Regions from separate parts of the Homo sapiens genome. Here region 2 is linked to region 1. A link means that fine-mapping ties the variant in region 1 to the expression of a gene that starts in the linked region. Tissue or cell type: skeletal muscle. Region 1 holds a variant in brackets; the other region holds the start of a gene. All regions are shown on one strand. Distances are between the middles of the regions.

Evidence for each region. PIP is the estimated chance that this variant, and not a neighbour inherited with it, causes the effect.
Region 2: it holds the start of TRDMT1, and the variant in region 1 is fine-mapped to the expression of TRDMT1 in skeletal muscle (GTEx, PIP above 0.99).

The regions. Positions count from the first base shown.
Region 1 is chr10:17,128,754-17,136,853 of GRCh38, forward strand. It overlaps CUBN (cubilin), which reads right to left and starts at 1,058. Exons shown (of 67, transcript NM_001081.4): 1 at 891-1,058; 2 at 368-497. The coding sequence starts at 1,012. The variant C/T (reference allele first, on the strand shown) is at 3,097.
Region 2 is chr10:17,196,975-17,205,082 of GRCh38, forward strand. It overlaps TRDMT1 (tRNA aspartic acid methyltransferase 1), which reads right to left and starts at 4,698. Exons shown (of 11, transcript NM_004412.7): 1 at 4,597-4,698. The coding sequence starts at 4,660. RefSeq lists a silencer at 4,336-4,395.

The DNA of each region.
Region 1 (8,100 bases):
AGGGGGAGGGAGGCTGAAGACAGGTTGATTAATGAATACAATATATAGTTAGATAGAAGAAATAAGACCTAGTGTTTGATAGACCAGTAGGGTGACTATAGTTAACATTAATCTATTGTACATTTCAAAATAACTAGAAGAGAACAATTCATATGTTCTTAGCATGAAGAAAAGGTAAATATTTAAGGTGATGGATATCCCAATTACCCTGATTTGAACTTTACACATTATAGGAATGTATCAAATTATGTATTAATAAAAAATAATAATTAAAAAAGATTCAAGGTACAGATTAATCTAGACTTGTTCAATTAAGTCACCGTATATGGATATACAAAATGACTTCAATATATTTCCAGTGTATTACCTGATGTAAACACTCACTGAGATCTTCATCATTTAATTTAATTTTTCCCAGGGATCCGGTTCTAAACTCAATGTTTTGAGCAGACCCCGTAAGAAACACCAAATTTCCTCTCTCTGTAGCCATTCGAGGCCTATATAATTCAAACGAGAGAATGCATCAGTAATTAGCAAGTACAATTTTTAAACCAAAATAACAAAGTTTCTTACTGAATAACTACAGGCCAAATACATCTTCACTTTTTGATCATCTCAACCCAACTGCCCCTGCTCATCTGCCACTTTTTTCTCTGCACATTTCTCAGAGATACCTCCTGGCAATTGCAAACAGATTATTTGCAAAATGACAGATAATAATTTGTGCATAGGAAAGTAATTTCATACCTCAGTCTAAATGTTTTTCCCTGTTTGCTTCTCAACATAATTTTCCTCAAGAAAAATTGCACCTTTGTTTATCTGGCTATTTGGGAAAACTGGTGAGGAATTAGCCTAGTCCCTGAGCAGGAATGACCCATGTGTTTACTTACTGTTGGAGATTGATGCTTCTTTTTTGTCTCTGCAGCTCAAGTTCTCCAGCTTCGCCATTTACTTCAGCAAATATTAATAAGGTAAGCAAACTCCAAAGAAAAGGTAAAGACATGTTCATCATCAACCTCCCAGGTTGGCAGGTAAGAGTGAGGCCACTCCAACCAACTGAGCATGGGATTTTGGAGAACAGCAAACCAGGCAGGTGTACTTTGAACCATGGAATATCCTGTAACTGTTGAGTTTTTTCTTCTTTGCCCTAGAAGGCTATGTTATTTTTTCTTCCAGAGGGATGTAAATGATCTTAGATCTTCAGTACTCTTCAACTTGTGAGAGGTCAAAATCTACCTTAAGTGATGCGCAACTTAATCATTATCTATTTGACCTTTGAAACAGTAACAAGCAGCTTTGAAAACATCCACTTAAACAATCTTTGCTTAAGAAGTAACTAGGTTTCAACAAAAGTAAACTGGTCATTATCTACACCTTTCTCTGTTCCCCTCCTTCCTCACCTCCCTTGCAGAGGAGTTCCACCTTTACCCAGCGCTAGGAAAACTAGATATCCACATGCAAAAGAAGTTGGAGGCTTACCTCATACCATATGCAAAAATTAACTCAAAAAAGTTCAAAGATCTAAATCTAAGAGCTAAAACTATAAAATTAACTCACAATGGTTCAAAAAATCTGAAACTATAACATAAAACTCAGAAGAATAGGACAAAAATTCATGACCTTGGATTTTGGATTTGGCAATGATTTCTTGAGTATGATACCAAAAGCATGGGCAAAAAAAGAAAAACACACAGACAACCAAAAGATATAAATTGGAATACATCAAAATTAAAAACGTTTGTGCATCAAAAAATACATCAACAGAGTGAAAAAGCAACTCCCAGAATGGAAGAAAATATTTGCAAATCATATATATATGAAAATGGGTTAATATCCAGAATGTACAAAGAATTTGTACTTTTTACTTTTTATCATCCCTGTGGGACCTATGGACGGCTGTGGAATCCATTCCCACTTTCCACACTGCGCTATACACCCTTCCAGCTGGATATATGGTTTGAGGACATGGAGCACTGATGTCCCCACTCACTCTGTGCTGGGACTACAGAAACCACTGAGAGTGATGAAAATATTCTACATTTCGATTGTAAAATCAACTATTGATGCACTCAGACTTTCCATGAGCACACAGACAAAACTGAATTTGAGGGAGAGCTGTAAAAATTTCACTTCTAAGAAAAATCTCTAGGTAATTACCATTGCATTGGTTAATACCCATGCAGGCTCTTTCAGGACAAGCCTGTTTGTGTTTTACTTATTTTGTGTCTTACTTATGTAGGCTCTTTGAGGAGAGGATCATTATGTACCATAGCTTATAATTCTTTACTTATGCCGGGCGCGGTGGCTCACGCCTGTAATCCCAGCACTTTGGGAGGCCGAGGCGGGCGGATCACGAGGTCAGGAGATCGAGAACATCCTGGCTAACGTGGTGAAACCCCGTCTCTACTACAAATACAAAAAATTAGCCGGGCTTAGTGGCGGGCGCCTGTAGTCCCAGCTACTCGGGAGGCTGAGGCAGGAGAATGGCGTGAACCCGGGAGGCGGAGCTTGCAGTGAGCTGAGATCATGCCACTGCACTCCAGCCTGGGGGACAGAGCGAGATGCCGTCTCAAAAACAAAACAAAACAAAAAAAAACTTTACTTGTGATACTCAAATAGTCACTGCTTTTAAAAATTTTTTTTAAACCTTCCCAATTTCTTCTATATGTCTCTTGTATCTGCTTCTTTCACTCAACATAATGCTTTTGTAATTCATCTGTGCTGTAGTGTATATCATTAATTGGTTCCCTTTTATTATTGAGTAGTATTTCATCATATGGCTATCCCACAGTTTGCTTCTCTACTCATCAGTTGATAAACACTTGAGTTATTTCCAGTTTGGGACTATTATAAATAAAGCTGTTATGAACATTTGTGAACAGGTCTTTGTGTCAACATAGGTATCTCATTACAATTTTAATTTATATTTCCCTAATGACCAAAGATGTTGGGCATCTTTTTATGTATATTTGCCATTTGTTTATCTTCTTCGGTGAACTGTCTGTTTAGATATTTTGCCTATTTTTTAAAATTTTGTTGTTTGTCTTTTATTGATTGTAAGAGCTCATATATTCTAGATACAAGAATTTTCAAATA[C/T]GTATTTTGCAAATATTTTTCTGCCAACCTGTGGCAAGTCATTTTGCTTGCTTAAAAATATTTTTCAAGGACAACAATAAGACACAAAAGACTACTTCCTAAGTGATTCTATATCACATGATTCCATATGAAAATCTAAAAAAGCCAAAACTACACTGATTGATAGACAACAAATCAGAGGCCAGGGGTTGGGGAGGAGATTGATCGCAAGGAGGCATGAGGGAATATTTAAGGGTGATGAAAATGTTCTGTATCATGATTGTGATTGTGGTTGCATGACTGTATAAATTTGTCAAAACTCATAAAGCTGTATAGTTAAAATAGATAATCTTTGGCAGATGTAAATTACAGCACAATAAAACTGATTAAAATTATTTCTCTTCTATATTTGTAAATGTCTTCATATATCAGGATGATACAAAATATTAATTTGGTATTAAACTAAATGCTAAGAAAAGATATCCAATAGCCTTTACATCAATAGAGATGAAATTTATCATAATAAATTTGTTTATTTGAAAGCTTAACAACTTGGCATGGGGTGGAGGGAAAGTTTGACAATATGAAATTTTTGGCAAGTTTAGAATAGGATAAAATAGTCTGGGCTAGAATCTTCCAATCAAAAGGATAATTCAAACTCTCTGAGCTCTGGACGTAACTATTTTCATGATTATACTTTCTTAAAGACCACTGAACTCAGCTAATCTTTCCAGTGCAATAGAAAAGGCCTCCAGCATGATCTTAATAAGGACTTCCTCTTTGACAGGATTTTCCTGTTTTGTTAATTAATGTGTTTATTACTCAACAAAGTAAAGATAATCTCTCAGCTCCCAATCTAAGCATTCAATTGCTCATTGTCACCCATGTTAGAAAAAAAAAAGAAAGTAACCGTCGTTCAAGGTCTGACTGACTTTTAGTGATGAGTTAGGGAATTTTACATCCAGCTCATTCACTCAACTCTAGCTCAGATCAATAGGCAAGTCAGACTGTCTGCATATGTTGACTCTGTGAAAAGCAATATAAAAATCAATTGCTGTTTCCAAGGGATTGGCACTCATTCTGTTTACTTACTCTATTCAGAAATACTTCAGGAAAGATGAATTAAAGTAGTTTTAGAATCTATGACCTTCAGATCTATATGGTAGATAACCTCTCTTCTTCTCCTCTCCCAAGGTAAACATTCTATAGACCTGAAATTCTATCTTTCATTGACTAGTAAAACTCCTGTCTCTTCCCTAATCTAGAATGCATTCCCCTAATATTCTGCATGTGCCCTTTACATATTAGCCATCTATAAGATGATAGGAACACGAAATGTAGTAAATTGCAGATTCTTCCCTCTGAAGCCTCCAGTCTAGGGAAGACCACATGGTTGAAGGTTAAGAACACGGGCCTGAAGCTCATTTATGTGCGTTCAAAGTCTGACTCCATCACTTACTGACCATGGAACCTTGTTTTTTCATCAGCAGACAGATAATAACAGCACTGAAGTTATGTAAAATGTTTAGCACATTAGGTTACTGGCACAAAATAAGTGTTCATTAAATATAAGCTGTTATCAATATCATGTAAAGAAATATAATAATCCTCACCCTCCTGTATCCTCTCTTGGGTTTAGATTCCTTAAAAGAAAAAATGACAAAAAGAATTCACAGCTGTCTTTATAATCTTGGGTACAAGGAGAAGCAAGGGTGTCTGATCATTTCTCCTATAAAAGAGGATTTCAGAGCAGAGAGATGAATTGGGGACTTTGAGTGAGGAAGACGATTGCTGACCTGGAGTTAAAGGTGTGAGGCAAAGGTAACTGATGTCTAAGAACAAGGCAAGGTGACTCCAGGAAGCACAGAACAACTCCACATTGGTGGGTGGAGAGCAAGATTCCATTTAAATCCAAGAGTTTTGAAGAGCAGGCAATCCAAAAGAAACGGTATCATCCTTGAGTGGAACTGAGTAACCAGGGTGAGGAAGCTTTTATATGGGGTGCTAGCAATGGAGCCCTCGGACAGGGAGGATCTGCTCTGGGGGCTGCTCAGTGTTTGGAGGAGGGCACCTAGTTGGAGAGTTTACCTAAGGAACCCTTATGCACATTTGTACGCATTCATTAAAATAAAACCCTTAGGGCCCGGCGCGGTGGCTCAAACCTGTAATCCCAGCACTTTGGGAGGCCGAGGCGGGTGGATCACGAGGTCAGGAGATGGAGACCATCCTGGCTAACACGGTGAAACCCCGTCTGTACTAAAAATACAAAAAATCAGCTGGGCGTGGTGGTGGGCGCCTGTAGTACCAGCTACTCAGGAGGCTGAGGCAGGAGAATGGCTTGAACCCGGGAAGCGGAGCTTGCAGTGAGCTGAGATCATGCCACTGCCCTCCAGCCTGGGTGACAGAGTGAGACTCTGTCTCAAAAAATAAAAATAAAATAAAATAATAAAAAATAAATAAAACCCTTAGGTCAGAACACTGATAACATTAATGGCATGTTGTAGACTTTAAGTTTATAATGGTGTCTGCTGTACTGTTGATTTCCACTCATCAGCCTTTACTCTCTTTGACTTCTTCAGCAAGACACATGCAAATGTATTTTGCATTGTTGCTGATACCATACATGGTACATGGAATGAGGGTGGTATCCAAATGTTCAGTGTACTGCTCATCCATAATTCATGACCTGCTGACTTCTGCTCCGGTCCTGTCGCATGGTCTCACCTTTCTCTTTCTTCCTCATCCTGGCTCCACAGCCTTTCTCACTGAAGTCTTAGCTCCCTTCTCTCCCTCCCTCCCTCCTTCCAAAACCACCTGAAGGTGGTTGTAAGAATCAGAATGAACTACTCCTTTCTCCTGTTTTTTATGTTTTTCAAGATATCTCTGTGCAACCTTTTCTCCTTCTGTGACATTCACTTCTCCTCCCTTTATATTCTGAATGCTCAGTTCTTTGCTCCTCCTTTAAATAATTCCCACAGACTTCACAAATAAAAATTCCTGTGGTCATCAAAAACATACATGAAAGTTAATCCCAGTATACTAGAATTTCATATGAGGGGAATTTAAGGTTAAGAAGGGGTCATGGTAATCAGAATATGGCTAAGGACAAAAACAGAGGTTGGGGGAGGGGGAGGGAGAGAGAGAGAGAGAGAGAGAGAGAGAGACCTTTATTGGAGAACAATGGAGGAGAGAATTAACTCTGCCTGGAAGGGGAATGCAGGCTTCCCAGGAGTCCATCTGAGTAGTTCCCAGGTAGAATAGTAGAGTGAGGAGTTTCAGGCAGAGTAATGGTGTATACAAAGCTTTTCAGTAGAAAGTAGCTCAGCAGGGCTACAGCAGTGTCTATATGTGGGAGATGAAGTTTTAAAAATGAACAGGAAGCCAAATCAAGAAGGACTTTGAAATATCATTTTAATGAGCTTAGATTTTATTTACTTTTAATACTGCAGAATTATGAGAGTCTCTTAGGGAAGAGATTAACATGGTCATGTTTGCATTTTACAAGCAACCCTGTGGAGCCATGTCTGAGACCCAGAGTTGGTAAGGAGGTTAGAGTACATGTTTCCCCCCGCAGATGGAGTCTCACTCTGTCACCCAGGCTGGAGTGCAGTGGCGTGATCTCGGCTTACTGCAACCTCTGCCTCCTGGGTTCAGGCAATTCTCCTGCCTCCACCTCCTGAGTAGCTGGGATTGCAGGCACACACCACCACACCCGGCTAATTTTTGTATTATTATTAGAGACGGGGTTTCACCATGTTGGCCAGGGTGGTTTCGAACTCCTGACCTCATGATCGGCCCGCCTAGAGTACACTTAAAGAGATGTGACCTGGGGAGCCTTAAGGCAATGGACAGTCAGATGAGGAGACAGTGAGAAAGATATTCAGAAAACAGGCTACAGAAATACTTGGGTAGTTAATATTTCATTAGAACTATTAGAGGGGGAAGTTGGCCGGGTGCAGTGGCTCATGTCTGTAATCCTGACACTTTGGGAGGCCGAGGCAGGCAGATCACTTGAGGTCGGGAGTTCAAGATCAGCCTGGCCAACATGGTGAAACCCTGTCTCTACTAAAAATACAAAAATTAGCTAGGCGTGGTGGCGGGCACCTGTAGTCCCAGCTACTCAGGAGGCTGAGGCAGGAGAATCACTTGAACCTGGGAGGCGGAAGCTGCAGTGAACCATGATTGCACTATGCACTACTGCACTCCAGCCTGGGCAACAGAGGGAGACTCTGTCTCAAAAAAAAAAAAAAAAAAAAAAGAACAGAGGTTTCTTGCTTGGAAAATTGGAATTGGAAGGAAAGAGATGTCATTAATTGAGTAAGAGAATAATCAGGGGAAGAAGATTTTGGAGGAAAGATAGTTCAGATTTGGATACATAGAGCTCTAAGGAATATCAACCACTCTGCTGCTTCACAGGCCTCACTCTCTGCAAGTGGTTTAACCATCTAAGATGGGAGTGGGGAAGATGTAGAGATGGCGTAGACTAGAACCTTGCTACTCCAAGTGTGGTCCACAGACCCAGCACAGGCGTCACTCAGGAGCGTGTCAGAAATGCAAAATCTCAGGTGCTACTGCCAACCTGCTGAATTAGAATCTTCATTTTACAAAGATCCTCCTCCCTGCCAATTATCTGTACACTCATTAAAGTGACCTAGGAGCACAAAGACACCTTCACTCATGACGAGAGTCAAGTGGTCCCTGCCATTGCGTCTGCATTTCCATTTCTACATTTTTCTTAGATTGATTCTCCAATTTTTAAATAATTTTCTATTTTCCACCTCTTTGTCTTGTTTTGTTATACTTTCTGAGAAAGTATTTATCTTTTAATTTTCTAGTAATTTGTTTTAAAATGTTGCTATCATTTTAAATTTGAAAACCCCTTTTTTGATTTTTGCTCTTGTTTCGTAGTTGTAACATCATCTAGTAATTTTTAGATAGTTGCTTTTTGATGTTTTCTTGTTTCCTGTATGGGCTCTGTTTTCTCTAAGTTGTTTTTCTCCCATTTGTTTGCTGGTTTAGGTCTTT
Region 2 (8,108 bases), 68 kb after region 1:
GAACCCAGCACTGTTGGTGTAAGCTGTGATGTCGGGATAAAGCTTCACTGTGGCCATACCCACACTATAGTGTGGGCAGTGCTCCTGTTCACCTAACCTGTTTGTTGGGTGTCCTGGAGATTCTGTGAGTTTCCAAATGTTTTTAATTTTTTTTTTCCTGATTATGTTAGCTAGAGTGGATTCTGTGGGTTGCAACTAAGAACTACATATAATACAAAAAAAGAATCTGGGCTAAATAAACCTTCATCATTTGATAAAACGATAGCAGAAGGATTATCAATTCAATAGTAACCTCAATAGTAAGCTAGAAAGAGTGTGGTACTGTGCTAGAGGCTGTACAGGAACAGAAAGGAACAGCAAAGAATGTTACATTTAAGCCATGTAAATACATGGGAAAATAGATATAAATAAAGTTAAATGAAATTTAGAAAATACAGAAGCATCTATGTAGTGACTGTAAAAATGCAACAGCATACTGGATATGCTGATAAGGATGAAAAACTTTTATTGACATATTTTTTAAATGTTCACTGGGTTTGAGGCAAATCTATCATGTTGCTAAAGAAATTAAATATACTTTTTATAACTGAAAATTCAGTAATGTGGGGAAAAATATTTGCAAATCATATATCCAATAAGACATTAAGATCCAGAATATATAAAGCCTACAACTCAATAACAAAAAGAAAATTCCAAAATGGGCAAAGGCCTTGAACAGACACTTCTCTGTATTGAAGAAAACAAATGACTAACAGGCACATGAAAAGACCCTCAACAACCCGGCACAGTGGCTCACACCTGTAATCCCAACACTTTGGGAGGCCAAGGTGGGTGGATCACCTGAGGTCAGGAGTTCGAGACCAGCCTGGCCAACATGGTGAAACCCCATCTCTACTAAAAATACAAAAAATTAGCCAGGCATGGTGGCAGGGACTTGTAATCCCAGCTGCTCGGGAGGCTGAGGCAGGAAGATCGCTTGAACCCGGGAGACGGAGGTTGCAGTGAACTGAGATCGCGCCACTGCACTCCAGCCTGGGCAAGAAGAGCGAAACTCCATCTCAAAAAAAAAAAGAAAGAAAAAGAAAAGATGCTCAACATCTTTAGTTATTAAGAAAATGCAAATCAAAACCACAATAGGATATGATTTCATATCCATCAGAATGGCTATTATTTTTAAAAAATGGAATAACAAGTGGAGAATATGGAGGTAGAGGAAACGGAGTGCTCATGCAATGGAAAATTGTGCCGCTGCTGCGGAAAACAGGCTGGTGGTTCCTCAAGAGTTACACAGTATTATCATATGATCCAGCAATTCCACTGCTAGGTCTATACCCCAAAACTTAAAAGTAAGGACTCAAACAATACTTATATACCAATATCCAAAGCAGCACTACTCACAATGGTCAGCAGGTAATTGATACAACTCAAGTGTCTATCAACAGATGAATGGATACACAAAATTGTACAGCTATACAATGGAATATTATTCAACCACAAAAAGAACTGAGATATTGATACAGGCTACAAAATAAATGAACTTTGAAGACATTATTCTAAGTGAAATAAGCCAGACACAAAAGGACAAATGTATTATTCTACTTATGTGTGGTACGCAGAGTAGACAAGTTCATAAAGACAAAGCAGAATCAAGGTTACCAGGGACTGGGGGGAAAGGGAATTTGGAGTTATTGTTTAACAGGTACAGAGCTCTGTTTGAGATGATTAAAAAGTTTTAGAAATGAACAAGGGTGATGGTTGCACAACATTGTGAATGTACTTAATGCCATTGAACTATACATTTAAAAATAGTTTAAATGATACATTTCATGTTGTGTTTTACCACAATAAAAAAATTCCATTATGAACCTTATCTAGAAATCAGTCAAAAATGAAGTTCAATATTATTCCTTTTGTGCTGCTTATTATATTATTTAATGTATAGATCCAAGGAAGTTAGTAGTTCTAACCAGAACAACGGCAACATAGCATAGTTAAAAGGTCAGGTAGGTAGACCTAGGTTAAAATACCAGTTCTACCGCTAACTAGTTTATTACATACTTAAAAAAGGACCTGAATTTAAAAGATCCCTAATAAACACTAAAGTTAGCTGCTGTTATTAGTCTTTATTATTATATTAAAAACCACCTGGAAAGGAGCAATGCATTTTATTACAGGTAAATTTTAAACTTTAGTACATCAAATAAGTGAACATGGGAAGGCAAACAAGTGTGGAAAAATATTTGCATCAATATGATTAAGAGTCTATATCCCTAATATGCAGATTTCCACCGAAAAGATGAGAGAGCAGAGAGGTACAGGGAGGCAGGAAAGTTGCTTTGGATCACAGGGTCAGCCAGGGAAGGCCAATATATGAACTAAGACATGAAATGTGAACCGAAGCTAGAGTGAAAAAGTCTGGGGTTAGGGAGCACTCTGGATGAGGCAACAGCAAAAGCAAAGGCCAGAACATCGAAGAACTTCGAGGGTTTGAGGAGTAGAGAGAAAGAAAAACAGTAAGCCTCGACAAGAAAGGCTGAGGAAAGAATTCAGGGAATCGTTTAATTAGAATTTCAGCTTTGGGTGTTGACGGTGAAGCGGGATGCTGAAGGGAGAGTGGCAGATAAAATTGAAGAGAAGACAGAAGCCAGAACTCACAAGCCTGTTAAGATGGGACTGTGATTACAATCTCAAAAGCAACCATTTAAGCAACGAAGTAACATGATCTGGTTTACTGTGCAAATGATCATGCTGCCTGCTAGAAGGAAAACGGAGTAGGGAGGCAGAATGGAAGTAAGGAGAGAAGCTGGGAAGCTATGTTAATAATTTAAATTACAGAACTTAATAGCTTGGATTCACAACAGTAGAACTGGCAATAGAAAAACGTGTACAAATTCACATTGCATTGGCTAATAGGAGAGAAAATATTTTACTCTTTCATTAATCCCAAAACTGTCACTTAAAATTACACAATTTCCCCTAACAAATTAGCAAGGATTAAAAATTGATAATACATATCCCTGATGAATATGTAGTTAAGGCACTCAAAAATCTCTGAAAAGCAATTTGCTATCCTCTCTCTCAAAAGCCTTAAAAATTCTGTTTTTCACTTAGTAACTAGCACACAGTTAAGTCTTACTGTTGAATTAATTCCAACAGTTAGTAAACATGCTTAAAGAGAAAATCGGCATTATGCTCAAGAATGTAACTGTAGCACACTGTACTTGCAAAAAAACTGAAGAATGATCTAAATATTCGACACTTAAGGAATGGCTGAATTACAGCTTATGATAAAGTACTAAGCAATTCATTAAGGAGTTTCAAGATATGGGAAAACGCGGACATTATATCACTTTAGAGAATTAACAAAGAGTAAATAGTACTAGAGTTTTGCTTTGATGCTGCTAAGTTTTAAAATGAGAAATAAAGATAGCCGGCAAACAAGTACTAAAAACTTAATGATCATTAACCTAGTCTAGAATTGAAACTCAATAAATCTGCTCAAAAAACTTATACGCTAAACCCATTAAATATTGTCTGTATCTTACAGTTACTCTTGTTACTCTTGGTCCTAAATAAGGAAGCAGGGAAGTTTCAGTTCGGTGGTTGTCTTAGTAATTTAAGAATAAACATGCACCTTCAAAGCCTGTTTGTCATTCTGTATCCCCAGCTCCTAGCACAAAATCTGGCACAGAATAGGAGCTCAATAAATAATTTTGAGTGAATATCACCAAAAGTAAAACTTTCAGTTCCAACTCAGCATGAAAGAAATCAAAAACCTCAAAATCAAAGACGTGCATAAAAGTAATAGTTTGCTTGATAATATCTCGTGATGTCGTTTTAAAGTAATAGTGATAATAATGTATAATATTTGGAGTGGTTACAATGTATCAGGCACTAACAAGCACTTGACAGACTTTAATCCTTATAATAATCATTCTCTTTTAAAACCAGGAAACAGGTTCATCACTGTTCACGAAGTAGCCCAACGTCACACTGCCACCAAGCTGGAACTCAGTTCTCTGGCATCTAAACGCAGAACTACAGAAGACACGTTTCTTTCCAACGATCAGACGTCCAAGTTCTTCAAGCTTCCTCTACCATCCTATTTAGCATTCGCAAACTTCTACCTTGAATTGTAGCTATTATCCCTTCCAAGATCCATCTCTCACCAGGGGAGCCCCTGACACTCCCTCCCTCCCCAGCTGGGAAGCCCCCCAGGATGAAGGACCGAGTCTCCATGCTTCTCGGTGGCTGCACACTTAGAATGGGGGCTTGGCACCAGGCGAGGGTCTCGCCCCTTTGATACCCTTTGAGGTTGATTTACTGCCTTGCGAATCCCGACTCCCAACTGGGCCCTTTGAGGCGCCATGTGCGGCCCCTCGAGCCAGACTCGGCGCCAGGAGAAGGGAGTCAGCGTCTGGAGGGGTGGACACGGCGGCGCGCAGGAGCTGTTTCCAGGACAACCGAGGGCCGCCCCACAGTGTCCGCCCCACAGTGTCCGCCCCTTGCGTCTCGCCGCTCCGCCCCTTCCCGGCGCGGGTGCTCCAACCAGCCCCCGTGAGCGAATAGAGAGAGGGGTGCTAGATGGACTCTCACCTCTCAGCGCGTGGTGCATGCCGCCCACGCCGCTGTATAGCTCCAGCACCCGCAGGGGCTCCATCCCCGCGCCTCAGCCGCCGCAGCCCCGGAGCTAGGCCTGCCGGTCCGTCGCTCCTCCTCCCTCCATCGCGCCGCTCCCTCAGCCTCTGGTTCCGCGGCGTTTCAGTTCCCCCGTCTCCTACCGCTCCAGGCTCAGGGCTTCAGAGGGCCTCGCGGCCTGGGGATTGGCAAGGGTCTAGAGGGGAACAAAGGACGGAAAACAATAAGGCTTCCCGAATGAATGGCAGCCACTCTGTAGCCTGATTTACGCTCCATTTCCTTCTTTGGTGTCAGGGGCCTTGATTGGAAAAGAAATCCAGAGTTCAGTAAAGGGGAGAAAACTGCCTTGGTTTCCAAGTGAATTAACACTGGTTAGAAGCCAGAAAAAAATCATTTTTCAGACAAGCTGCTTTTCTGTCACTTAGAAGCCTGAACATTCAAACATTCTTTCCACAGTGTGCCTTGTTTCCTGCCTGCCCTGGGTCAATAGAGAGAAATTAGACCAGCCTCTCCCCTAGAGAAGATTCCAGAATTATAAGTAAGGACACAAGTCCACTCGCAGCAGAGAAAGCCCTGTGTGCGTGCTGATAATACAGAGGATGTTTGTTGTGTCTATTAGTGGGGTTAATTATGTTTTAGCTTGGAAATTACACCTACATAGAATACACAGTGAATATCATGTAGGATTATTTATGGGTCTTTAAGTGCTATGGCCTTGATTCCTCAGGATGATCCAGTAACCAACTGTTAGAGGCTCATGTTGACGAAAAAAGCCAAACTCCGTAAAATGTTTGAAGAGGTTTATTCTGAGCACAAGGTGAGGACCGTGACCCATGACACAACCCCACAGGGTCCTGACAACATGTACCCAAGGTGGTTGGGCTACAGCTTGGGATTATATGGTTTTAGGGAGACATAAGGACATTAACTGGTATATGGAAGGTGTACTTAGTTTGGTCCATAAAGATGGGACAACTCAAAAAGGGGAAGGATTCCAGGTTACAGGTGGATTCAAAGATTTTCTGATTGGCAGTTGGTTGAAAGAGTTAAGTTGTGACCTAAAGACCTGGAATCAATAGAAAGGAATGTGTCTGGGTTAAGATAAGGTGGAGACCAAGGTTCTTATTATGTAGACGAAGTCTCATACGTAACAGGCTTCAGAGAGAATAATTGGCAAATGTCTCTTATCATGTGTAAAAAGATGCCAGACTCTTAGTTAAATATCTCTTGGATCAGGAAAAGACCTGGAAAGGGAAAGGGAGTCTCTATAGAATGTAGATTTTCCCCACAAGAGATGGCTGTGTAGGGCCATTTCAAAAAGTGTCAAAGAAATTTATTTTAGGGTAAAATGCTTTGATTTAGGGCCTGCTATCTTTCATGTGATGCTATACTAGAGTCATGTTGGAATTTTGGTATCTTATTGCTAAGAAGAGTCTGTTATGTCGGTATGAAGATCTCTTGTTTTAATAATAATACTGGTCAGTTGTGCCTGAACTCCAAAGAGAGGAAAGTATAATGAGGCATGTCTGACTTCCCTTTCCCAGCATGGCCTGAACTAGTTTTTCAAGTTTCTTTGGAATCCGCTTGGTGGAGGTGTTCAATCAGTCAGTTGGGGGGAGCTTAGAAATTTTGTGGGGGGAGCGGTGTTTACAGTCAATTATAAATAAAAATAATGTACCCATATGGAGGATAGAAAATGTTCCCGTTGTGAAGTGTTTTTCTCTTTGTTCCCAACACTGCCACAGGTTTTTGTTAGGGGGAACTTGGGGGTACCACTTGTAATAACAATAACTGATTTGTTAGAAATGTTGCATGCCTGCTAATGTAATGCTGTTAACAAATAAAAGTATAACCACTGCATCCAAATTATAACATTCACTGGTTCCTTTTGATGTGGTCTATGAAATTAACTTTTTAAATTGTACATGTGCATTGGCCACGTGCTTTGCTTTTTGTTAGTCACTTTCAGATAAGAAGAGGTGTATGGTAGAAAGATACCAGATAACTCAGCTTTAGCCCTGGCGTTGCCAGTTAACTGATTGTGTGACTTTGAGATGACCCTGGTTTCCTCATCTGTAAGATAAAGCAGAAGGGAACAGAAAGAGATGGATTGTTGAGGGTGTTTTAGTTCCAAGAAATGAATTCATGGCTGAATTCAAATTAGAAAAAATGAGACCTGATTTGGCAACGTGTTAATTATTTATTGAATTTGAAATATGTAGAAAGAAGACTTGTTACCTGCTTTAAGCAAATGTACTCTTAAACTAACTCAGCTTACAGAAACCATGTACACACTGACATATGTATAATGCATGAAGCAAACTTTTTAAATATTTATTACATATAGTACCAGAAATAAACATCAGTACATAAAATGTAAAGGGAACTATATAGTCACAGTGATTTATATATAGCCAAAAACCAATATATTAAACAAATCTGGAATTTTCAGCATTCGTGCTATAAATCAAAATAAATGTGACAAAAGACCTTACCTGTAGGGGAGAGACAGTACAGACACATGGCAGAGTTAATGAAAAATACCAACCTCCTGAGAGGAAGGAGCCTCAAACCCCTTCCCCACACAGGCTGATTACAAACTGTTTACTCTGATACTTAAGGATCTTCACGGTATAGCCCTGAACTTACTTTTCTTCCTTAACTTTTTTCTCTTCTTGAACTCTGCTGTAAATGAAACTACTTGGTGTTCCCCAAACATGCCCTTCAGTTCACTTCTCTGCTTTTGTTCTTTCCCTTCTCTAGAAATCTCCTAGACTTCTTTAAGACCTATACTTCAAGTGGAACCTTCCTTCTAGACTCCCAGCCTAAAATATCCTGACACATTGCAACTCCTAGGTCTCCCTCATCTTCTGAAATACAGATCACCCTTGTACTTGTCATTCAATCCTTCCAGTTATTCTAGCCCAATTGTCACCTCATATGTGCCACATCTTTATGTATTATTTCCTCTCTGAGGCTTATCTCGTGATAATTATTTCAAGAATGAAAACTCTCTCCATAATCATAATTTACAACTATCTCCATGGAAGCATCTGTAGATATTAGGCCCCCTGGGATTATGTATGCAAATGTCTTCCAATCACTGGCACAAATTACATGATTTGGTGGAAGAGTGGGAGGGCTGGTGGAGGTGGTACAATAGGGAGTAGCTGAGGAGAAAAGTGAGGTGAGCAGAATGAAAGTAAATATTGATTACTTTTTCCGAAAGCAAATCCCGAAGGCTCATAAGAGAGAAGAAAAACTCTCTAGTCCCATAATTTCCCATAAAGTCATCCTCAATGATATGTACAATACTATTTATATTTTAATTAGAGAAACTAGACATACTTTTAAAAAAGCAAGCAAATATCAAAACTGGAATGTTAGTATATTTACTACATTTTCTCTAAAAGCAGAAAATGCGTTTCTTTAAAAAAAAAACACATTAATTAACACCTGGAAAATAAAGG